Linked DNA regions of Homo sapiens: all the other regions are linked to region 3. The links come from fine-mapping of genetic effects on gene expression. A gene starts in region 3. Each other region holds a variant in brackets. All regions are shown on one strand. Distances are from middle to middle.

Region 1 (8,176 bases), 870 kb before region 3:
ATGATTAATATAAAAAAAAGGAGAAAGGTCAGAATGCTCCTTTCCCCTGCTGGATCAAGGCTCTGAGACAGGCTGAAGGCAGAAATCCTCTGTCATTCCTGTCCCCTTCTCAGCTACCAGGGGAGCGTGACCCGTTCTGGGGCTCCAGACACTGTTATCACAGAAGATTTGCTCTTTCTGGCAGGAAGCAAAAACGATGAGACTAGTGTTGTCCAAACTGAGGGTTGCAACCTGGTTGTGGGTCTTAAGCAGATTTTTTTCTTACAAGTAGTGTGAGAGACCAATGGAATCTCAGATTCCCAAACTCACTATGCCAAAGGGGAAGAGAAGCTTAGGAACTGGGTCACCAATGCTGTCTTCCTCTTGTTCCCAAACAGATGGCTGCAATGGCACAACCCTGTACTCCCGCTCTTCACATGTTTACTTTATCTTAAGTCAAATGCAGATTAACTGAGCTGCACACAAGACATCATTGACTTTTCCCTCCACTTCCTCTTTCCAGGTGTAAAATGTAGTTTTACCAAAGCTAATCAGAGCCTCACGGGAATGTAACCATTTGCTTCCCTGCCTCCCCTCCCTCCCTTTTTTCCCTCCTGCTTTCTCTTCCTCCTTCAAAGACTGAAGTTCCCGGTCGGGCACAGTGGCTCACACTTGTAATCCCAGCACCTTGGGAGGCTGAGGCGGGCAGATCACCTGAGGTCAGGAGTTTCAGACCAGCCTGGCCAACATGGTGAAACCCCATCTCAACTGAAAATACAAAAACATTAGCCGGGCATGGTGGTATGTGCCTGTAATCCCAGCTACTCGGGAAACTGAGGCAAGAGAATGGCTTGAACCCGGGAGGCGGAGGTTGCAGTGAGCCGAGATCATGCCATTGCATTCCAGCCTGGGTGACAGAGCAGGACTCCGTCTCAAAAAACAAAAAAAAAGTTCCTAAAACCTCCTTTGGAAAATGCATCTGTGATCTGTTTTGTTTTGTTTTTTTTTTCCTGGACAACCTTGGCTAAACAAACCTCTAATGCACTGAGACCTGCCTCAGTCATGTTTTGGTCTGTAACAGGGTATGTCAGGATCAATCAGAGCACATCTCAGGTTATAATGATAAACACTGAGATTTTATTTTTTTTTTCTGTATGCGTATACAAGTATTGCCAAGTAACTAACTTTCTCACTGTGAGTCATGGTCAAAAAATACTAAAAGTCACGACATGGGCCGAGTGAGGTGGCTCACGCCTGTAATCCCAGCACTTTGGGAGGCCAAGGCAGTTGGATCACCTGAAGTCAGGAGTTTGAGACCAGCCTGGCCAACATGGTGAAACCCCATCTCTACTAAAAATACAAAATTAGTAGGGCGTGGTAGCACGTGCCTGTAATCCCAGCTACTCGGAAGGCTGAGGCATAAGAGTCCTTAAACCCGGGAGGTGGAGGTTGCAGTGAGCCGAGAACACGCTACCATACTCCAGTCTGGGTGACAGACTGAGACGCCGACTTAAAAAAAAAATTCATGACATCAATTATGTGTGAGCATTTTACTTCAATCCAGAATAAAGAACAAGGGAACTCTCCCACCACCCTCTGTCTCTTGGTGCCCAGAAACTCCATCGAGCACGTTCTGGTCCAGAAAAAAAGAGGGGGCCCTGCAGTGGCCAACCCTATGTCTTGCTCCATTCAGCCTGCTGTAACTGAAATACTACAAAGTGGGCAGCTTAAGCAGTCATTTATTTCTTACAGTTATAGATGCTGGACATCCAAGATCAGGGTGTCAGCCTGGTCAGGCTCTGGCGAAGGCCTCTTCTGGGTTGCAGATGACTGCCTTCTCTTTCCATCTTCACATGGCAGAGAGGGAGGTCTACAAAGCTCTCTGGAGTCTCTTTTATGAGGGCACTCATCCCATTTATGAGGGCTCCAGTTTCAAGACCTAATCGCTTCCCAAACCCCCAATACCATCAGCTTCATGGTCAGGATTTCAACATATGAATCTTTGGTGGGGGAAGAAGGGGGACACAAACTTTCAGTCCATCATCCCTGGAACAGGCAGATAATGCCAGCATTTTCTTCATCAGTGTCATGGACTTGGCGTTATGCAAGAGCAGTGTCGATCAGGAACGGGAAACAAGAAGGTTTTTGTGGTTATGACCGAAACCATCTGCTCACATCAGCCCATTTGTGGCTTTTATTTCTTTTTTTAATACTCAATTTGAGCAGAGAGCAGGCTGAGAAAGGAGTGCTGGCATCAGGAGCTGGCAGCGTTAGAAGCACCTATGCAGAGGGACAAAAGCCCCAAAGTGAGCGACTGCTGGGCTTCGAGCCCCAGTGCCCCCCACCTCACCACGCCCATGACTCCTGCATCTTCCTCCGAGACCCACCCTGCACAGCTGACTCACTTGCCTTCGTCTGTGCAAATAACTTCCCCATGGGTCTCCTTTTTCATTTGCTTCTCTCCCCTTTATTTCAGGCTACTAAGGGATGCAACGTTGACGGTGCTAAGCAGAGCCTAGAATAGGAGAGAGGGCTCTCCAGAAAAGACCTGGAACATTAGAGATGAGCAATGCCACTGTTAGGAGCCCATGGGTCCCGCCCTAAGCCTCCGAGGCCTCTCCTTCACCTTCATATCCACACCAGACAGGGCTGGTGAGCGAATTCTGGAGGATTCAAGGCGAGAGAGAGTCCCCTGTGTTCTTAACTTCGGGGAGCTGAGGTCACAGATACACTTGAGATTGTAACAAAAGCTATACACCCATGCCCTAGGAAAACACACACATACACTGAGTTTCGCATATCCTATTAAAAGAATCTCCAGAGTCTTTCTATGTATTCCTAGCTAGGACCCCCCACCCTGGCAGGGCGCGGTGGCTCACACCTGTAATCCCAGCACTTTGGGAGGCCAAGGCGGGTGGATCACATGAGGCCAAGAGTTGGAGACCAGCCTGGTCAACATGGTGAAACCCTGTCTCTACTAAAAATACAAAAGTTAGCTGGGCATTGGTGGTGGGTACCTGTAATCCCAGCTACTTGGGAGGCTGAGGCAGGAGAATCCCTTGAACCCGAGAGGAGGAAGTTGCAGTGAGCCAAGATCGTGCCATTGCACTCCAGCCTGGGTGACAAGAGCAAAACTCCAACTCAAAAAAAAGAAAAAGAAAAAAGAAACAGATGAGAGAGATATGACTCTGATGCTAGAACAGAGGAGGAGCCTGCAGAAGGTGTGCAAGCACACATGTGCGCACGTGCACACACATACCAGCTGTCAGACACAGTCTGTGCTCTTTGGGAAGGAGGGTGGGGGTTACAGGACACTCCCATGTGACAAAACAGCAATCATCCCATGTCCCCTGGGTGCATAAAAACATCTCTCTTTGCACACCAGCACACAGCCACATCTTCCTTGCTGGGGTTCTTTGTGACCACTGTGAAAAAGCATTTGCCAGGGCTGTCTTGATGGTACACGGCGCTCCTCTCCTGACCTCAGGTGGTCCACCCACCTCAGCCTCCCAAAGCTCTGGGATTACAGGCGTGAGCCACCGCACCTGACCCAGACCCTGCATTCCTTTCCCCACTGGGCTTCTCTAATGTTCAGAACAACTCAAATCCATTTGTGCATTCTGCTGCCGCATATGGAGGCCCTGCTAAGTGTGAGTCCTACTTTGTGTTTGCAGCTGCAGACCTCATGCTGAGCAAGACTTCGCCTGGCCCTGGAGGGGCTCCCCACTACACCCTGGGTTGCCTCTGTGCCCTCTGGACTACCAGGCCTGGCTTAGTCGCTTTCCTTGGGCCTCTGTTTGTTATCAGCAGAGCCCACCCATCTGAGGCTGGAGCCTGAAACTCTAGTCATCCCTCTGATTCCCTCATCCTCTCCCCAGTGCACCCCAGCCCCACCCACCTCCCCTTCCCCAGCCACTAGGCCTGCTGTTCCTCATGCTCCCACCAGCCTCCCCCACCCCACTCCCCGGACCCAGGATGTCCAGGAGGGGCAGATGTGTCACTGTGTCTCTTTGCTCTCTCTGCCTCATCTGCCAACATTTGGGGAGCTTCTGTCAGCTGGACTGAAACTGGCTTTCATGTTTCTTACTACTCCCTTGCGTCTCTCTTTTCTACACCTCAGTTTTGTTGTTTTCCCATTGCATCAATGTTTATACGTAGAGCTGTTCAGAAAAAGCAGAAGCTGGAGACAGGAAAACTACTAATCACAACAGAAACTTTGTGGCTTTAATTCTCATAATAATTAGCATCACAGGGCACCCACCCAGTTTCTCAAGAGCCTACAACTTCCAAAAACAGACAAGTTAAGTCACATTTTTATGTATCATTGTGTCTTCAAATATACTAATCCAGCAGATTTATCTGACATCAAAACAGGGAGTTGGATGTTCAGAGGGCAAATCTTACCCAAAAATTGCTGACACAGCCCCTAACATGTTACATTATTATTAATTGGACAGTCACTTAATGAGCGTCTACTAAGTAAAGGCGCTGTGTATACAAAGAAGAAGGAGAGATCATGATTCTGTCAGGATCCTGGGAGTGGGCCAATGGCAGGCTCAGTTGGTATAACAGAATAATCTAATGCAGGGGAAATTTACAAAGAGAAGGAAAGAGTTAAGTGAAATCAACAAGAGATGGAGAAAAAACAGGACTAGCAACAGCAGTAGGGCCACGACACCTCTAACACAGGGAGAGGTGTCAGAAATAACCAGAACCCACAGGAACTGTAGGACAGGACCATGCCACAGGGGCTGTGACCTCAAAGTAGGAAAACGGACACTCCAGCCCAGCAGGGTGGCACCTGGGCAGGAGAAACTCTCACCTTCCTT[T/C]CTCCTGCTGGCACCACCCATTGCCATTCCTTGGAAAGAAAATAAATCTTGGGACCCCAAACTCACTAAGCCAAAGGAAAAAGTCAAGCAGGGAACTGGGTCATGCAAACCTACCTCCCATGTTGGTTCCTAAATGAGATGGTGACAAGGATGACAGGCTACCAACCTCCCTCACATTGTGGTCTTTAAAGCGTTTCTGTTAAATTTCCCCATGCCAATGTAAACTGATAGCTTATCTTCACAGGTGCGAGACACAGGACAGAACTCAAAGTCATTCCTCTGCCCACCTGAGACAAACGCATATCTGACTGTTTCCTCTGCCCTGTTGTTTACGTTATCTTAGGTAAAAATGCAGATTCACTGAGCCAGACAAAGGCCTGAATGGCTATTTTCCCCACCTCCCCTCTCACAAGAAAATTGTGTATTTCTCAATATCCCACCCTTTCCCTTTTAAATATTGAAGCCCCCAAAATCATCTTCAGAGAAAGGTATAGACCTGTCTCCCAGGCGCGTTTCCTTAACTTTGGCAAATAAACTTCCTAAAATGATTGAGACTTGCCTCAGTCATTTTCCTCCATTGACAACCTGAGCCCAACCAGAAGCCAGAGTGAGGTTATCTATGTTCCCCTCTCCAATAAGAATAGAAACCCCCACTCCAGAGCAGGTGCGGTGTCTGACTCATCTTCATATCCCAGCAGTAAGTACAGTGACCAGCTCACCGCGGGTGCTCAGTAAATGCATGCTGTGTGAAGAGATGAATGAGTGAATGTCCGTCCACTCAGCAACCTTGCAGCCAGGTGTGGTTGCTCATGTCTGTAATCCTAACATTTTGGGAGGCCAAGGCGAGTGGATCACTTGAGACCAGGAGTTTGAGACCAACCTGGCCAATATGGTGAAACCCTGTCTCTACTAAAAACCCAAAAATTAGCCAGGTGTGGTGGTGCGTGCCTGTAATCCCAGCTACTCAGGAGGCTTGAACCCAGGAGATGGAGGTTGCAGTGAGCCAAGATTGCGCCACTCTACTCCAACCTGGGTGACAGAGCAAGACTCTGTCTCCAAAAAAAAAGAAAAAGAAAGAAGAAAGAAAGAAAGAAAGAAAGAAAGAAAGAAAGAAAGAAAGAAAGAAGAAAGAAAGAAAGAAAGAAGAAAGAAAGAAAGAAAGATTCTTACAAACTATAAGATACTAAATTATCTAAAATTATTTCAAAATAAAGAAGGAGGTTTTGATGCTATATGCAGGTAAGAAAGGTTGGAATTAATCTCTGGAATAACACACATGATTTTCTCAATTCCTGTACTAAGCACATATGCATGGCTCCAGAAATAAGCAGAAAGTCTTTGCCATTTCAACTGTCCCCCACATACTTACTATGTTAACCCACTTCTCCATCAACACTTCTGCCCCAGGCAACTAGAAGAGAGAGAAGGAAGGTGGTGAAAAGCAGCTTCATGGTTCTGCCTACTGAGCTCTGCTCTCCCCTCTATACAGCCCAGTCCTCCTAGACTCTGGGCTGACCATGCTACAGAGAGCAAGTGCTGCATGCTCTGCCTTCTGCTTTGGTGCCTCCCTATCTCTTCTTATGGTGGTCTCCATTCACACCTGCAATCATTGTTTATTCTACTGCTTTTTTTTTTCTTTTAAGAAAGAAACTGAGATGATAAGCAGCAACTACTTGACAAGCAAGTGTTCAAACACAATGCTATGGCAATCTCCTCAACATGCTTGAAATATATGAAAAGATAGAAAATCTCAGCAAGGAAATAGACACAAAGAAGTAGCAAGTGGACATTTTACAAATGAAAAATATGATAACTAAATTTTTTAAATTCAGCTAATGGGCTCAACATCAGGAGGGAGAGGACAGAGGAAAGAATCGGTGAACTTGAACACAGAACAATAGAAATTGTCTGATCTGAGCAAAAGAGAGAAAATAGACTTTAAAAGATGAACAGAGCCTTAGGTAGCTGTGGGACTGTAATAAAAGAGCAAACATTCATGTCATTGAAGTTCCAGAAGAAGAAAAGAAAGAAAGCAGAGTTGCAAAAAGGTATTTGAAAACATAACGGCTAAAATTTTCCCAGTTTCAGCAAGACATAAAGCTACAGATCCCAAGATAACTATCCTCAAAGTCAGTCAGAGCCTGGGTCTAAAAACCATTTTGAGCAGATTCCTGGAAAACTCAATCTCCAGTCCAAACATTCTTCTAACCTCAGACCTCCTTGCCATCCCTCTCCTTGATATCTGCACTTGAGCCGTCTCAAAGATGCATCCAACTCAACAAGTCCAAAGTAAACTCACAATTATGCCCTCCAGAAAGGAGTCCCATCACCTTACACTGTTTCCTAGTTTTCATCCCTGACCCCTCTGTGTCTTCATCCCCACACTCTGTCCTGCCTGGAGCCCATTCAATGTTGCCTCCTGTTAAAGCTCTCAGATTTGTCCATCTCTCTATCTCCTTCTCTGCCAACCTAGCCCAAGCTACCATCGTCTGTCAATAGCCTCCCAGGTGGTCTGCCCACGTTCACTCTTAGTTTTTCGCCACTGTGCAGCCAGAATGGTATTTTTGCAAACAAATCTGATCTTGCCACTCCCCCTGTAAGAAACATTAACAGCCTCCCAGGGCTCTTACAACTCCTCTACTGGACCTCAGTTTGGCCCCTGCTGACCTCCCAAGCCTCAAGCCATAATAACCTCCCACTTAATCCCCAAGGGGCAACCACAAAGATTTTGGTTCCTCAGACAGAACACATTCCCTTGATTACAGTGACTGTTCACACACTGTTTCCTGGGCCTAAAATGCTCCTTTCCTCTCTTTGCTTGGTTAACTCATACTCTTCCTCCAAATCTCAAATAAATTATCATTCATTCAACTCAACAAATATTTACTGGACACCTACTACATGCCAAATACCGTGCTAGGTGCTGGAATGCAGCAACAAACAAATCAAGCTTCTGTCCTCAGGAAGCTTACATTCTCCTAGGGGGAGGGGGAGAGGAGAAAATAAACACATATAAAATGTACCAGGTGGTCATAAGTGCCCCGAAGACAAAAAGGGTAGAGGGAGTGAGGGGAGGCAAATGCTATTGTATTAATATCTATAGAGAAGGTATCTATGATAAAGTGTTATCTTATTTTAACAGAGACCTGAAAGAAGGGTGGGAGCCACACTGACAGCTGCAGGTGAAGAGTGCAAGGTAGGCCGGGTGCGGTGGCTCACGCCTGTAATCCCAGCATTTTGGGAGGCCAAGGTGGGCGGATCACGAGGTCAGGAGATCGAGACCATCCTGGCTAACACGGTGAAACCCCGTCTCTACTAAAAATACAAAAAATTAGCTGGGCAAGGTGGCAGGCGTCTGTAGTCCCACC
Region 2 (8,176 bases), 68 kb before region 3:
GCTGTCATAGCTCACTGAGGCCTCCAACTCCTGCCCTCGAGCAATCTTCCTGCCTCAGCCTCTCAGAAAAAAGTATTTCTAAGATGGAGAAGGGTGGGCCAAAAATAGCTCTAACTGTTTCAGGAAGCATGTCTTGTTACCCTACAAGGCCCTGACCATTCACTGACAAAGAGTGCTTCTCTGCGCGATGTTTGACTGCCTCTCCAATACTCTCCATCCTGTTTCAAACAATGTGTCTCCCTCTGTAGATGAGCCAGTGTTCTACTGGACTGGGAGGAACCCAGCTACCTCCTCCCATTAGCGTACCTCCCATATTGAAGCAACTCAGTTTTTTATTATTTTTTGAGACGGAGTCTTGCTCTGTAGCCCAGGCTGGAGTGCAGTGGTGTGATCTTGGCTCACTGCAAGCTCCGCCTCCCGGGTTCATGCCATTCTCCTGCCTCAGCTTCCCAAGTAGCTGGGACTGCAGGCACCCGCCACAACACCCGGCCAATTTTTTTTGTATTTTTAGTAGAGACGGGGTTTCACTGTGTTAGCCAGGATGGTCTCAATCTCCTGACCTCGTGATCCTCCGGCCTCGGCCTCCCAAAGTGCTGGGATTACAGGCGTGAGCCACCTCGCCTGGCCCCAACTCAGTTTTAGAGAACCCCAGAGGCAGCTATATAAATATTGTTTAGGTACAGCAGGGGGCTTCTTTGGCCCTTATAGATCTAGACACTGTTACTTAAACCCTGTTCGAAAGACTTCTTTGAGGCCGGACGCAGTGGCTCACGCCTGTAATTCCAGAACTTTTGTAGGACAAGGTGGGTGGATCACTGAGGTCAGGAATTCGAGATCAGCCTGACCAACGTGGTGAAACCCCATCTTTACTAAAAATACAAAAATTAGCCAGGTGTGGTGGCAGGCGCCTGTAATGCCCCCTATTCAGGAAACTGAGGCAGGAGAATTGCTTGAACCTGGGAGGCGGAGGTTGCAGTGAGCCGAGATCACACCATTGCACTCCAACCTGGGCAACAGAGCGAGACTCTGTCTCAGAAAAAAAAAAAAAAAAAAAAGAAGACTTCTTTGCAGGATCATAGGATCATATGTTCTCATGGTTGCTTCTGGTTCCCATGAACTGGTTTACTTGAGGGACTCTCCCCCCATCCCATGGGTGTAGTTCCTTATCCAAGAGCACAGACTGAGATGTGAAACATACCCTTGCCACTTGTCACTAAACCAACTGCTCACACAAGGTTTCTATACATGTAGAGATCTCTGTAGGACAGTTGGGAAGATGCAGGGATTTACATCGTAGAAACGTGAGCAGCTTTCAATTCAGTGTCAGTGTTTTTTCTCCAAAAGTCCTCTGCCATTTCCACCGTTCAGGCTCCAGCTTCCTTACACATGGCTCAGCCTTCCTCTCTGCTCTCTCCTCTCTTTCTCTTCCAATTCTAAATTTTTGGTTCATTTTTAAAATGCATGCTGGGTGTGGTGGCTCACGCCTGTAATCCCAGCACTTTGGGAGGTCGAGGCGGGAGGATCTCTCGAGGTCAGGAGTTTTAGACCAGCCTGGCCAACACAGCAAATTGGAGTTAGAACCCACAGAACTTGCTCTACTAAAAATACAAAATTAGCCAGGTGTGGTGGCGCACGCCTGTGATCCCAGCTACTTGGGAGACTGAGGTGGGAGGATTTCTTGAACCAGGAAGGCAGAGGTTGCAGTGAGCCTAGATCACACCACTGCACTCCAGCCTGAGCAACAGAGCAAGACTCCATTTAAAAAAAAAAAAAAAAAAAAGCAGCTGGGCATGGTGACTCACGCCCTGTAATCCCAGCACTTTGGGAGGCTGAGGTGGGTGGATCACCTGAGGTCAGGAGTTCGAGACCAGCCTGGGCAACATAGTGAAACCCTGTCTCTCCTAAAAATACAAAAAATTAGCTGGGAGTGCTGGTGGGCACCTGTAATCCCAGCTACTAGGGAGGCTGAGGCAGGAGAATCGCTTGAACCCAGGAGGCAAAGGTTGCAGTGAGCCGAGATTGTGCCATTGCACTCCAGTCTGGGCAACAAGAGCGAAACTCCATCTCAAAAAAAAAAAAAAGCAGTCACTCCTCATTCTTCTCCCCACACCCCAGCCCCTGGCAACCATTTATGGCTGGGCATGGTGGCTGTCACCTGTAATGCCAGCACTTTGGGAGGCCGAGATGGGCAGATCACCTGAGGTCAGGAGTTCGAGACCAGCCTATCCAACATGGTGAAACCCCGTCTCTACTAAAAATACAAAAATTAGCCACGTGTGGTAGCGCGTGCCTGAATCCCAGATACCCGGGAGGCCGAGGCAGGAGAATCGCTGGAACCTGGGACATGGAGGCTGCAGCGAGCCAAGATCATGCCACTGTACTCTAGCCTGGGCAACAGAGTGAGACTCCGTCTCAAAAAATAAACAAATAAAAATAGGCCAGGCGCGGTGGCTCACGCCTGTAATCCCAACACTTTGGGAGGGTGAGGCGGGCGGATCACGAGGTCAGAAATCGAGACCATCGTGGCTAACATGGTGAAACCCTGTCTCTACTAAAAATACAAAAAATCAGCCGGGCGTGGTGGCGGGTGCCTGTAGTCCCAGCTACTTGGGAGGCTGAGAATGGCGTGAACCCGGGAGGCAGAGCTTGCAGTGAGCCGAGATTGCGCCACTGCACTCCAGCCTGGAAAACAGAGTGAGACTCCATCCCAAAATAAATAAATAAATAGATAAATGAATAATAAATAATAAAATAAAATAAAATAAAAACAGGCCAGGCATGGTAGCTCATGCCTGTAATCCCAGCACTTTGGGAGGCAAAGGGGGGTGGATCATTTGAGGTCAGGAGTTTGAGACCAGCCTGGCCAATATAATGAAACCCTGTCTCTACTAAAAATACAAAAATTAGCTGGGCATGGTGGCAGGTACCTGTAGTTCCAGCTACTCGGGAGGCTGAGGCAGGAGAATCACTCGAACCTTGGAGGCGGAGGTTGCAGTGAGCCGAGATCGCGCCACTGCACTCCAACCTAGATGACAAAGCGAGACTCCACCTCAATAAAATAAAATAAAATAAAATAAAAAATAAATAAATAAAATGCAGAGCATTTGGGCTCATTCTCTTACTGCTTTGATGCAGGCTGACCTGGGCTCTGGGTCTCATCTTTTCTTAAAACATTTACCAGTGATTTTCCTATGCAAAGACAGTTTCCTCCCCAGGAGGAATTTTGGTGTCACTGTTAGGACACAAATGTACATGTCAACAATCCCTCTGATAATCTGAGAGAAATTAAAAAGTAGTAAGGCACTATCCCTGCTCTCAAAGAGCTTAAAATTTAGTGAATGAAGTGATATTTACACCTCAAATGCTAAGAAGCCGTTCAAAAATAGTCAAGAATGCTAGGCAGAGATGACTGGGATTGGTATTTGGGAAATAAAGTGCCAGATAAGGTTTCTGGGATGGGAGTAGGGCTGGGTATCTCGTCAGCTAGTGCCTGGACCACCACGGCTGGCT[A/T]CCTGTCCCCACTGGCTCCTGTCTCTCTCTCTCTCTTCTTTTTTTTTTTTTTTTTTCTGAGACAGAGTCTTGCTCTCTTGACCAGGCTGGAGTGCAGTGGTGTGATCTCGCCTCACTGCAACGTCTGCCTGCCAGGTAAAAGCGATTCTCCTGCTTCAGCCTCCCGAGTAGCTGGTCTTACAGATGTGCACCACCACTCCTGGCTAATTTGTATGTTTAGTAGAGACGTGGTTTCACCATGTTGGCCAGGCTGGTCTTGAACTCCTGACCTCAGGTGATCTGCCCGCCTCGGCCTCCCAAAATGCTAGGATTACAGGCATCAGCCACCGTGCCCGGCCCTTATTTTTCTTTTCTTTTCTTTCTTTTGAGACAATCTTCCTGTGTCACCCAGGCTGGAGTACAGTGGCATGAACACAGCTGACCCTAGCCTTGACCTCCTGGGCTCAACGGATCCTCCCATGTACTATAGCTGGGACCACAGGCATGCATCGCCACGCCTGGCCAATTTTTTAAAATCTTTAAAAAAATTTTTGTAAATACAAGGTCTCACTTTGTGGCCCAGTCTGGTCTCCAACTCCTGGCCTCACGCAAGCCTCCTGCCTTGGCCTCCCAAAGTGCTGGGATTAAACAGACATGAGCTAATACACCTGACCCAAGACTGCTATTTCTAGCTTATCTTCTACAAACTCATCTTCCTCTTAAGCTTGACTGTCTCATTTCTCTACTTAAAAATGTTGGAGGAGGAAATGTTCACCTCCAGCATTTATCTTCTGGTGATTCATAACGTCCCTGGCTCCTTAGAAAATAGTCGCAATCTCGTCTAGCTTTATCTTCTGTTGCACTCCCTCTGACCAAACGCCAAACTATCCAAGCACAACAGGCAACGAAGATTAGTCTCAGTTTCTACGAATGTGCAGTGAAATACAGCTTCTGCTCTGGAAGTTAAGATGGCTGCTTTGCAGCACACGGAAGACCTTGGTGTCTGTGAGCATAGACTAAGGCTACTGATTTCATTATTCCTGGAAATCAAACAAAAAGAGGCTTCCAGTACAGGGAATATCAAAGATCGGTAAGATGATACACGCATGATGCTAAACTTATGGCTAGGCAACCTCTGCTCCATTGCTTTTTTTTTTTTTTTTTGAGACAGTCTCACTTACTCTGTCACCCAGGCTGGAGTGCAATGGCATGATCTCGGCTCACTGCAACCTCCACCTCCGGGTTCAAGTGATTCTCTTGCCTCAGCCTCCCAAGTAGCTAGGATTTCAGGTGCACACCACCATGCCTGGCTAATTTTTGTATTTTTTGTAGAGAGGAGGTTTCACCATGCTGGCCAGGCTGGTCTTGAACTCCTGACCTCAAGTGAACTGCCCACCTCGGCCTCCCAAAGTGTTGGGATTACAGGCATGAGCCACTGCTCCATTGACATTTTGAACCAGATGATTCTTTGTTGTGGGTTGTACTGTAAGTTGTAGGATATTTAGCAACATTCCTGGCCTCTACACATTAGATGCCAGTAGCAGCCCTCTCCCAACCCCTGTAGTGACAACCAAAAATGTCTCCAGACATTGCCAAATGTCCCTAGGAGGCAAAATCATCCCCCAACTGAAAGTGTACATAGGCTCACACCCAGAATCCTAGCACTTTTTTTTTTTTTTTTTGAGACAGAGTCTTGCTCTGTCGCCAGGCTGGAGTGCAGTGGCGCGATCTCGGCTTGCTGCAATCTCTGCCTCCCGGGTTCAAGCGATTCCCCTGCCTCAGCCTCCCGAGTAGCTGGGAGTACAGGCGCCCAACACCATGCCCGGCTAGTTTTTTGTATTTTAGTAGAGATGGGGTTTCACCATGTTGGCCAGGCTGGTCTCGATCTCCTGACCTCGTGATCCACCCGCCTCGGCCTCCCAAAGTGCTGGGATTACAAGCGTAAGCCACCACAACTGGCTGAATCCTAGCACTTTGGGAGGCCAAGGCAAGAGGGCTGCTTGAGAACAGGAGTTTGAGACCATCCTGGGCAACATAGTGAGACCCTATCTCTACAAAAAAAAAATTAAAAAGAGAGTCTGTGTGTGTGTGTGTGTGTGTGTGTGTGTGTACTTTTTTTTTTTTGAGATGGCGTCTCGCTCTATTGCCCAGGCTGAAGTGCAGTGGTGCAATCCAGGCTCACTGAAACCTCTGCCTCCTGGGTTCAAGCGATTCTCCTCCCTCAACCTCCCAAGTAGCTGGGATTACAGGCACCCACCTGCATGCCTGGCTAATTTGGTATTTTAGTAGAGATGAGGTTTTGCCAGGCTGGTCTTGACCTCCTGACCTCAGGTGATCCGCCTGCCTTGGCCTCCCAAAGTGCTGGGATTATAGGCATGGGCCACCTCACCCGGCCACATACATTTAAAAAATTGAGATATAGTTTAAATACACTAAAACCTACAGATTTTAAGTACATAGTTGAACGAGTTTTGATAAATGTATAAACCTACATAACTCTCACCCTAATCAAGATATGGGGCATTTCCTTCACCTCTCAAAAGTTCCCTTCTGCCCTTCTGCAGTCCATCCTTGCCTGTCCTCCAGATTCCCATCTTAGGAGTTGATATGAATGGAATTGCAGGGTACATAACCTGTTATGTCTGGCTTCTTCCCTTCCTCATGCCATTTGTGTGATTCTTTCAGATTGGGATGTGTATCAGTGGCCTCATTCACTTACTTACTTACGTATTTATTTATTTATTTGAGAGACAGATTCTTGCTCTGTCACCCAGGCTGGAGTGCAGTGGTACGATCTTGGCTCTCTGCCTCCCGGTTTCAAGCAATTCTCCTGCCTGAGCCTCCTGGGTAGCTGGGATTACAGGCACACGCCACCATGCCCAGCTAGCTTTGTATTTTTTGTAGAGACAGAGTTTCACCATGTTGACCAGGCTGGTCTTGAACTCCTGACCTCAGGTGATCTGCCCGCCTCAGCCTCCCAAAGTGCTGGGATTACAGGAGTGAGCCACCACGTCCAGCCTCATTCACTTATGTGTATGGCTGAGTAGTAATCCCTTGTTCAGATCCACCACCATTTGGGTACCTGTTCCCCAGCTGGTGGATATTCAGTTTGTTTCCCATTTGGGGTGCTTATGAACAATGTCTTTGGGTGGCCATTTATTGTTACCTAGGGATCTAACTTTTGCAGACTGTGAATGCAGTATGGGAATGGGGACCGTAGTGTGGCCAGTGCTCATGTTGTGTTGTAAAGTTGTGCCATCTATTTCTGGACCACACTTTTTTTGTTGTTTTGTTTTGTTTTGTTTTTTTGAGACTGAGTCTCGCTCTGTCACCCAGGCTGGAGTGCAGCGGCACGATCTCGGCTCACTGCAAACTCCACCTCCCAGGTTCAAGCCATTCTCCTGACTCAGCCTCCCGAGTAGCTGGGACCACAGGTGCCCGCCACCATGCCGGGCTAATTTTTTGTATTTTTAGTAGAGATGGGGTTTCACCGTATTAGCCAGGATGGTCTCGATCTCCTGACCTCATGATCCGCCTGTCTTGGCCTCCCAAAGTGCTGGGATTACAGGCGTGAACCACCACGCCCAGCCCTTTTTTGTTTTTCTGAGGCAGGTCTCACTCTGTCGCCCAGGCTGGAGTGCAGTGTCACAGTCACAGCTCACTGCAGGCTCAACATCCTGGGCTCAAATGATCCTTGCACGTCAGTCTCCTGAGTAGCTGGCACCACAGTTGTGCACCATGCCTGGCTAATTATTTTTATTTTTAAATTTTTTGTAGAAATGGAGGCTCCCTGTGTTTCCCTGGCTGGTCTCAAACTCCTGGGCTCAAGTGACTCTCCCACCTTGGCCTCCTAAAGTGTTGGGATTACAGGCTTGGCCCAGACCACTCTTTAGGGGTACAAAGACGTGTCAGAATTGTCTCGCTGGCAGTATTTACAACAATGTTCTTCAGTGGGACCTCTTGGTTGAATCAAAGGGCCCAAGAGGAGCCTATTGTCAGTGAGATATCACTACTACACGATGCAGGGATTAAAGGAGCAGCTTCTCCTAAAAATATCACTCACAACTTAGAGGCAAAAGGCTCTTTTTTTTTTTTTTTTCTGAGACGGAGTCTTGCTCTGTCACCCAGGCTGGAGTGCAGTGGCGTGACCTCAGCTCACTGCAAGCTCCGCCTCCTGGGTTGACACCATTCTCCTGTCTCAGCCTCCCAAGTAGCTGGGACTACAGGCACTCGCCACCACGCCCGGCTAATTTTTTTTTTGTATTTTTAGTAGAGACGAGGTTTCACCGTGTTAGCCAGGATGGTCTCGATCTCCTGACCTCGTGATCCGCTCGCCTCGGCCTCCCAAAGTGCTGGGATTATAGGCGGGAGCCACCGCGCCCGGCCTAGGCAGAAGGCTCTTGCCGATGGAGCAAGCTGAACATGGGAACTACCTGTTCAAGAATCAACGGCTCAGATAATTTCACCAGGCCTCACATTGCAAGTATCCTCAGTCCCGACCCCGAATGCCAGCCTCTGTCTTCATCCATTGCTATCTCCCTCCAAACCTTTCCCCTGTGTGATTCGAAGCCCATTATTTCTTTTTTATTATATACTTTTTTCTCTTTTGAAAAATTTTTTAATAGAGAAGGCATCTCGCTATGTTCCCCAGGTGGGTCTTGAACTCCTAGGCTCAAGCAATCTGCCC
Region 3 (8,176 bases):
CCTGCCCCAGTGTGCTAGTGGATGCATGAGGTTAAGGCCCTTCCTCTGGCACCCATACCCCAGGTGTTCAGGTAGCCTGGGGGACTCCTTCCTGTGCACAGGACCGAGGTGTATCTTGGGGCTAGAGCCCCTGAACTCCAGAGGAGACCTTCCCATCCAGGGAACTCCTCCTGCCTCAGTCTGGTGGCAGGAACCACCTCCTGCCTATGCTGATCTGGGATCTCAAGGTGACAAGTCCAGCGGCCTCCTGGGACAGCCCAGAGAGCCCTCCCTGAAGCCCAGAGGTCTATTCTCCCTGTGGGGGGTCGCACCACAGAGGTACCCAAGACATGGGGCTCAGGTGTGGCCGCTTGTGCATGGATCCCCCACAGCCCGGTCAGGTCTCGAGGCTAGGTGAAAATCTCCAGTAAATGAGCTCTGGCCACACCCCACCAGGACACACATGTCAGGGGAAGAGAAACTTTAGCAACTTGTTAGAGAGTGTTGAACTTTTTTTAAGCAGTAGAATTCCCTTTTTAAAAGCTATCTCGTGGCCTGGTGCGGTGGCTCATGCCTGCAATCCTAGCACTTTGGGAGGCTGAAGCGGGTGGATCACCTGAGGTCAGGAGTTCGAGACCAGCCTGACCTAGATGGTGAAACCCCGTCTCTAGTAAAAATTAGCCAGGCGTTGTGTCAGGCACCTGTAATCCCAGCTACTCGGGAGGCTGAGGCAGAAGAATAGCTTGAACCCGGGAGGCAGAGGCTGCAGTGCGCTGAGATCATGCCACTGCACTCCAGGCCGGGTGAGAAAGCAAGACTCCGTCTCAAAAAAAAAAAACAGCTATCTTATAGATATCCTCTTAAGACACGAACATAGAGGTGCTCTGGTTGAAATGTGTGCGTTTGAGGTTGGGGGTAGGGATGAAGTTCTATCTATTCAGTCTTCTCTAACCCACTGTCAGAAATCTCATGGCTCCAAAGAACACATCAGAAAGACCATCTGCTAGAAGGCAACTCCACGAAGACAGGAATTTGGGTCTGTTTTGTTCACTACTATGATCCAGTGCTTAGAACAGAGCCTGAGCCAGGCACAGTGACTCACGCCTGTAATCCTAGTACTAGGAGGCCTACCTAGGTGGGTGGATCACTTGAGGTCTGGAGTTCGAGACCAGTCTGGTCAACATGGTGAAACCCCCATCTCTACCAAAAATATAAAAAAAAATTAGCCGGGCATGGTGGCACACACCTGTAATCCCAGCTACTAGGGAGGCTGAGGCAGGAGAATGGCTTGAACCCAGAAGGCGGAGGTTCCCGTGAGCCGAGATCCTGCCACTGTACTCCAGCCTGGGTGACAAGCTATAGGCACTCAATAACAATGTGAATGAACGTACTTCAACCCTCTAATTTTGCAGGCCAGGAAACTGCAGCCCAGAGAGGTTAAGTGACTTGCCTAAGGACACACAGCAAGGGGGACCCAACTTTCTCTCTGGCTCTCTCACACAGAGGCACTTCTTACTGAGAACAAGACAGTCCACCCTCCTCAAATATGCAGATCACAGTGACCCACCCCCACCCACCAAGCCTCTGTGAACTGAGCGCTCGGCCTCAGCGGGATGCTCGTCCCACCCGGTACTCACTTGTCTTTGTGGCCTTGACCTTCGCCACCAGTTTCTGCACACCGGTCACATCTCCATTCTTGACGGCGAGGATCAGGTCCTGTTCACGACCCATACTGGCTCCTGGGCTGAGCTCTACACTCAGGAGTCCAGGGCAAAGGCAGGCAACGGGTCCAAGCTGGGGCGTCAGGGCGCCATGCCACAGCCCCTTGGAGGGCTCCCGGTTCCGGGGGAGCAAGTCAGGTGTCCCAGGCAGTGGGCTCCTCGTCAGGTACTGAGGGATACTCCCAAAGGTGCTCCGTGAACTGCCACCACACGAAGGAAAGCTAATCTTTGAGGGGGTGAAGGCTACATGGAAATCTGGATGGATATCAGCTTGTGGCTTCCGACAGCTCCAGGATGGGCTGGGACTGGGCACACCAATCTTCCCGGCTTGGCTGTGGAACACCAGTGCCCACCCAGAGAGCAGCCAGCATTCCCTTGGGCCTCAGGCAGCAGCGGTGCACTGGTCTCAGGGCTCTGGAAAAAGCACGGGGCCTCTGTCGAATGCTGGGCCACAGCCTGCAAGGGTCCCAGAAGTGGAGTGCAGAGGATGAGCAGGACAAGACCTCCAGGGAGCCCCCAAGCCACCCTGGCTCCCCTCGGAGTCGATGGTGATGCTGAGCCACTGAAAGTGGGGAGGAAGCTGCTATGCATGAGAGGAGTATTGGTGGGGGGGAGGTGGCATTCTGGGAGGGGGAGGCTGAGTCACTGGGGCCCCAGGGCACCTGGCAGTACCTCAACCTTGGGCAGGAGGGGCCCTGGCAGCATGACATACTGGGGCAGGCCGGGCCAGCAGCCTGTTCTCCACAGCCCGAGGCTCCGACACCCACAGACAACTGGCGGGCCAGGAGGTGGGGCCGGGAGGGTCAGGCACAGGCAGGCGGGCAGGGGTCACTCCCTGTCAAAGGCACCAGCCCCCAGATTCCTCCCTACGGAGGCTTCAAGGCTTCGCTTTAATGGCTGGATGCCCTAGTCCTAGGACTCTTTGTGAACGGAGAGCATGAAGTGCTTCTGGCCCCCCATTTCTGGGGGCTCTGCCTGCTAGAGAGGGAAGCTGCACAGCACCTGTTGCTGACCCGCCCTCGCCCCTTGTGTCGGGTGGAGGAGCAGCTGGGCAGAGAACAGAGAGAGCTGGGGCACTGCTGACAAACGGGGCTCCCAAGCCCCCCAAGCCTGAACCTGAAGCCCAGACCCTGGACTCCACCGCAGAGAAGCTTACGTCAGTTTCTCGGTGGCAGCGAATTTACTGCCAGAGTCTTGTGGCATGAGATCCGCGCAGGCCTGGGGCCCTGGCCGGGAACCCCTCACTCCCCAAACGTCCCAAGCCCAACCCAGGGGCACTCCCACGCGGAGCCCGCGGCCGACACGGGCGGAGGGCGCCCTTGGCAGTGCCTGGGGTCGGGCTGGCTCCCCCGCCCCCCGGAATGTCCCTCCAGCGCCTCGCAACCCCCCAGCCCAGCCCAGCCCAGCCCAGGCCCACCGGGGAACAAAGCGGCGGGAGAAGCCGGGCGGGCCAAGCGCCCGAGGTATAAACGCGGAGGATGGAAAAAGGGGCGCGAGGAGGACGGAAGGAGCGGGGAGATGGAGGTGCCCGCCGACCCCGCAAGAAAAGTTAGTTTGCGCCCGCCCCCAGGGGCGCTGACCCCCAGCGCGGGCCCCGCAGCCTCACCTCTCCCGGCCGCCCGCCGGGGTCCGGCTGGCCCTGCTCGGTCCCTGGCACTCAGGACGGTGGCTCCCACTCCCCCCTGCCCCCCTTTCTCCTTCTCCTTTTCCAAGGCCGGCTCGGCGCCTCCCGCAGGAAATCCCGCCCCTCCCCCCTCCCTCCCGCCGGATCGGGAACGGAGGGACCGTCCCGGCCGCGCAGTCAGGCTGTCAGTCAGCACCGGCGGCTCCGCCCCCATCCGCGCCAGATCCCGCCCCAACTCGTGCCCGCCCGGACCGGGGGCGCTGACCGGATCAGCGCATGCGCCCAGGTGAAACGGAGGGGCGGGGGGCGCGGGGGCAGAGGTGACCTGGGGCTCTGGACTTAGACCCAAGGGCTAGACACCCCGGGTCTGACTGGTGGGAGAGAAGACGTAATGTGAAGGGGGTTGGCAACCAAGACGCGGGACCCCACTTGCAGTACCCCCCGTCTGCGGCCGGCGTCGCCCACCCGCAGCCGCCGGCCGGGCAATGGCACCACCTAGCGGACGGCACCAGTGCGGGGACCCCAGCCTCGAGGAGGCGCTCGTGCCGGGCGGAGGTGGCGCTTCAGCACCGTCGTGGGCCGGACAGCGCCTCCCGCCCCCGGCCCTCGAAACCTGGCTTCGGAGCCCAGCCGTAGGGACCGGACGGAAGACACCGAAGGAATGGCGAACCTCCCCGGACCGCTCCTGACAGTTCCCGGGTGGCCTTCGGCCTGCAAAGTCGGAATTTGCACACCCTCCGCTCGTCCTTCCCTGAGCCCTTCTGCCCTCCTTGCCCAGCCCGGGCGGTGGGGACTAAGCAGCGCGAGGCTGCAGAGGGGCGGTCACAAGTGTGACCATTCGCACTGCACTCCAGACGCCGGCTCCTCAGGCTTTACTGGAGAGAAGCCCCGAGGAGGGCTAGGGGCAAAAGAGGGGCCTTCTGCATCTCCAGCAACCTGCGGGCTGAGCTCCCAGACCCGGCGTCGGGGTGCGCTTCCGGGCGGGCGCTAGGACCGGGGACAATCAGGAGGGCGCAGAGCGGGCTGGGGCGGTGCAGGGGGCGGGGCTGCCGCGGCATTGCGGATCGGCGGGCACTAGGGCAGCGCGGAGCTCCGGCGGTGGGCGGGGCGTGGCGGCGCGCGCAGCGGCAGGCGGCGGCGGGATGGAGCCCGAGCCCGAGCCCGCGGCCGTGGAGGTTCCCGCGGGGCGCGTGCTCAGGTGCGGCGCGGCCCGGCCGGAGTGGGTGTCGGGGGCGCGGGGCCAGCGCGGGTAGGGAAACCGGCGCCCGGGACCCGGCCAGGCGGCCCCCGATGCGCGGCGCTGACCCCGCGTCCCCTTCTCCCCCAGCGCCCGGGAGCTCTTCGCCGCCCGCTCGCGGTCGCAGAAGCTGCCCCAGCGCTCGCATGGCCCCAAGGACTTTCTGCCCGACGGCTCGGCAGCTCAGGCCGAGCGGCTGCGCCGGTGCCGGGAAGAGCTCTGGCAGCTGCTGGCAGAGCAGCGCGTGGAGCGCCTGTGAGAGGGGCGGGCCCAGGGGTAAGGGAAGCGGGGGCGAGGCGGGCCGCGGGGTCTCCGGAATGGACTGACGCAGACCCCTCCCCACTCCTCGCCAGGGGCAGCTTGGTGGCTGCCGAGTGGAGGCCAGAAGAGGGCTTCGTGGAGTTGAAGTCTCCCGCGGTGAGCGGCGGGCTCGGGGACCGGGGACCGCCCTCCCTGCCCTCCCTGCCCTCCCTCCCTTGTGACACTTGCTCTGGGCCCCACACAGGGCAAATTCTGGCAGACCATGGGCTTCTCAGAGCAGGGCCGGCAGCGCCTTCACCCGGAAGAGGCCTTGTATCTTCTGGAGTGTGTAAGTGGGGCCCGGGAGGTGGGGAAGGAGTTGGGACCAAAGAACGGGAAGGACACGTTTTATCGGAGAAAAAGCACACACAACCCGGTCTTTAGAGAACTGATAACCAAACTTCTAAAGCAGGAGGTGGTACGTTGCAGGGAGCAGGGATTCCAGTCCACATTAGTGATGCTGCCCCACTTTCCTGGTTGGCCACATTCTTGATGCGCTGCTGAGAGGGGGAGGGGGAGGTATCAGAGCTGGGAAGTTGCCCCATTCCTCTGTGGCACTGTAGTGAGGGCTCATAAGCTGAGCTGTTGGCCCCACTTCCAGGGCTCCATCCACCTCTTCCACCAAGACCTGCCACTGTCTATCCAGGAAGCTTACCAGCTGCTGCTGACCGACCACACTGTGACCTTCCTGCAGTACCAGGTATCTGCCACCACCCCGCCTCCGGGAGCCACCCATCCACTGAATCAATGAGTATTGACAAGTACCCATAAGGTGCCAGGCACAGTGTCACATGCTGGGGCTGCAGGGCAGACGAGGGCTATGCTGTCACGAGGCTTACATTGTGGTGGTGGCCTGTTGGCTTCACATAGACCCCAGTGCTGTCAGAAGATAAGGTGGGGGAAGAGAATCCAAAGAGACTGGGCTGTTCATTCAGGTGAGAGAAGCTAGGGGCTTGTCGCAGGTTGGGGGTGGGTAGAGTTGCAGTGAGTGAAAAATAGATGAATCTCAGAAATATTTTGGAGAAAGAATGGATAGGACTGCCAATGGATTGGATGTCAGGATTAAGGAGAGAGAAGAACCCAGGATTACCGCCCATGATTTGGGCATGCACCAGTGGATGAAGGTGCTGTCATTTTCTGAGTGGGAAGAATGAAGAGGAGCAGATTTGGGAGGACAAGACCAGTCGAAAGAACTGTGTCAGATAAGTTAATTTTGAGGAGCTTCTTGGACATCCAAGTGAGTGTAAAGCAGACAGACAATTGGAATCCAAGTCTGGAGTGTGAGGAGAGGTCAAGGCTAGATGTAAATATGGGTGCCATGAGCACATGGATGGTATTTAAACTACTGGGCTGTATGGGAGTGCCATCAGAGTAGAGGGCTGGGTCTGAGCCCTGGGGCTCTCTGTGTAGGTTAGGGGGCAGATAAGAAGCAGAAACAGACCGAGGAGTGTCTGGTGATGCAGGAGAAAAACCAAAGTCGCATCACAGAAGCCAAAAGAAGGTCTTTCAAGGAGGAAGTGGTTAGCTGTGCTAAAGCCTGCTGAGATCAAGCAGGATGGGGGACATTCTTATCTATGTTCCTCTGATATGAATGCAGGGACACAAGGTTGAATATGTGGCTCCCTACCAGAAACTTCCCACCGGCATCTGTGGAGGTGTGGGGCTGGAGAGATGCCCACCACCTGCCATCATTTTGTTCACATGGTGATCGGCAGCTTCACTCCTATGAGCTTTGTATCAAAATACTCAAGTATTTCAGGGCGTGGTGGTTTTCTGGTTTCATGGCTATCAGTTTTTTTGGATTTGGCTAAATGTCATTTGTGCCGAGTAAGGTAAGTGGGAGGACAGGAATTCAGAGCCTGAGATCTTTAGGGATGGTGTTCGTAATGAAGCATGGTCCAACCTTAATCACAGGGTTTAGAATCTGGGGGTGTACAGGAGGGGCAGAGAGGGCTGTGGGGATGGCCTGTGTCTGGAGAAACCATTTGGTGTTTTCCAGAGTGGCCATCTGAGCTTTCATTTTTTTTTTTTCTTTTGAGGTCTTCAGCCACCTGAAGAGGTTGGGTTATGTGGTTCGACGATTCCAACCAAGGTAAATCCCCTTCCTGTTCCCCTTCCATATATTCTAGTCCTGGGACCTGGCTGACTAGTCTAAGGTAGAAAATGGCCTCTCCTTACCTGGAACCCTTGGCTGGAGTGCAGTTCCTTGGGCACAGACTGGGGGCGCCTGCTGGAAGCGTTCTGAGAGAGGCAGGTTGGGAGGAATCCAGGTCATTTTGTTTTATTCTGGTTTATGAACTCGAGCCGCATCTTCAGATGACCTGCGCCTGCAGCTGAGTGTGTGTGAGCACTGAGAGGCAGGATTGGAACAGTGCCTGGCACTTAGTAGGTGCGCAGGCAGGTATGTAGAGTGTATGCTTAAATGAAGGACTGGGTGAAGAATTTACCATTAGTAGGGTTTCACATTTTTCATGCCAGGTTAAATGTTTTTTCCTTCATCACCTTAGTAATCCAGCATTGGTAAAAGGCAGAGACCTTCAGACTTGGAGTGGAAACGGGTACAGCTTTTGCAGTTACAGTATGTCACAAAAGCTCTAAAGCAGGCACATCTTTTCTTTTCTTTTTGAGACGGAGTCTCACTCTGTCGCCCAGGCTGTAGTGCAGTGGCATGATCTCAGCTTACTGTAGCCTCTGCCTCCTGGGTTCAAGCAGTTCTCCTGCCTCAGCCTCCCAAGTAGCTGGGATTACAGGCGTGTGCCACCATGCCTGGCTAATTTTTTTATTTTATTTTATTTTTAGTACAGATGGGGTTTCACTGTGTTGCCCAGGCTGGTCTCGAACTCCTGACCTCAAATGATCCTCCCGCCTCAGCCTCCCAAAGTGCTGGGATTACAGGCATGAGTCACCACGCCCAGCTCTACATCTTTTCTTTTCTGAAAGTGGAACCTATCCTAAGGAAATAATCGTGGACGTGTACAGTGGTTCACCTGTGAGAATGATCAACGATATTTATTATTTGCTGGGGGTCAGGCCCTGTACACATCGCTGAGAACAGAAGAGCAAAATCACTGCCCTCACAGAGCTTGCATTTAGTGAGGAGTCACACAGAACACACTCACTGTGCAAAATCAGTGTACTTGCAAACAAGAGTTGAACAAGAGGCAGGCTCACACAAATGAGAGGTTATCCCTTAGAGCAGCTCTGTCCAATAGAACTTTCTGTAATGATGAAAATGTTCTGTGTCTGTGATGTCTAATACATGGGGCTAGAGCAACTGTGGGACTGAATGTTTAATTTCATTTAATTTAAATGTAT

Direction of the effects. Positions count from the first base shown, and alleles are read on the strand shown. Sizes are in standard deviations (SD) of each study's normalised expression.
For the expression in thyroid of the gene that starts at base 3,443 in region 3, allele C in region 1 goes with a lower level than allele T (small effect, 0.23 SD a copy in GTEx).
In carriers of allele T in region 2, the expression in tibial artery of the gene that starts at base 3,443 in region 3 tends to be higher than with A alone (moderate effect, 0.47 SD a copy in GTEx).

Evidence for each region. PIP is the estimated chance that this variant, and not a neighbour inherited with it, causes the effect.
Region 1: its variant is the best candidate, but not a certain one, in a credible set for the expression of CASKIN2 in thyroid (GTEx, PIP 0.58).
Region 2: its variant is the best candidate, but not a certain one, in a credible set for the expression of CASKIN2 in tibial artery (GTEx, PIP 0.54).

The regions. Positions count from the first base shown.
Region 1 is chr17:74,637,701-74,645,876 of GRCh38, forward strand. No RefSeq gene overlaps it. Among named protein-coding and RNA genes, the nearest start is that of CD300E, 18 kb to the left of the region's middle. The variant T/C (reference allele first, on the strand shown) is at 4,809.
Region 2 is chr17:75,444,272-75,452,447 of GRCh38, forward strand. No RefSeq gene overlaps it. Among named protein-coding and RNA genes, the nearest start is that of TMEM94, 8.3 kb to the right of the region's middle. The variant A/T (reference allele first, on the strand shown) is at 3,511.
Region 3 is chr17:75,512,095-75,520,270 of GRCh38, forward strand. It overlaps CASKIN2 (CASK interacting protein 2), which reads right to left and starts at 3,443. Exons shown (of 20, transcript NM_020753.5): 1 at 3,307-3,443; 2 at 1,617-2,114. The coding sequence starts at 1,710. TSEN54 (tRNA splicing endonuclease subunit 54) reads left to right here and starts at 4,434. Exons shown (of 11, transcript NM_207346.3): 1 at 4,434-4,522; 2 at 4,652-4,816; 3 at 4,915-4,978; 4 at 5,067-5,150; 5 at 5,463-5,561; 6 at 6,901-6,953. The coding sequence starts at 4,467. RefSeq lists enhancers at 2,553-3,119, 4,214-4,508 and silencers at 3,293-3,902, 4,293-4,672.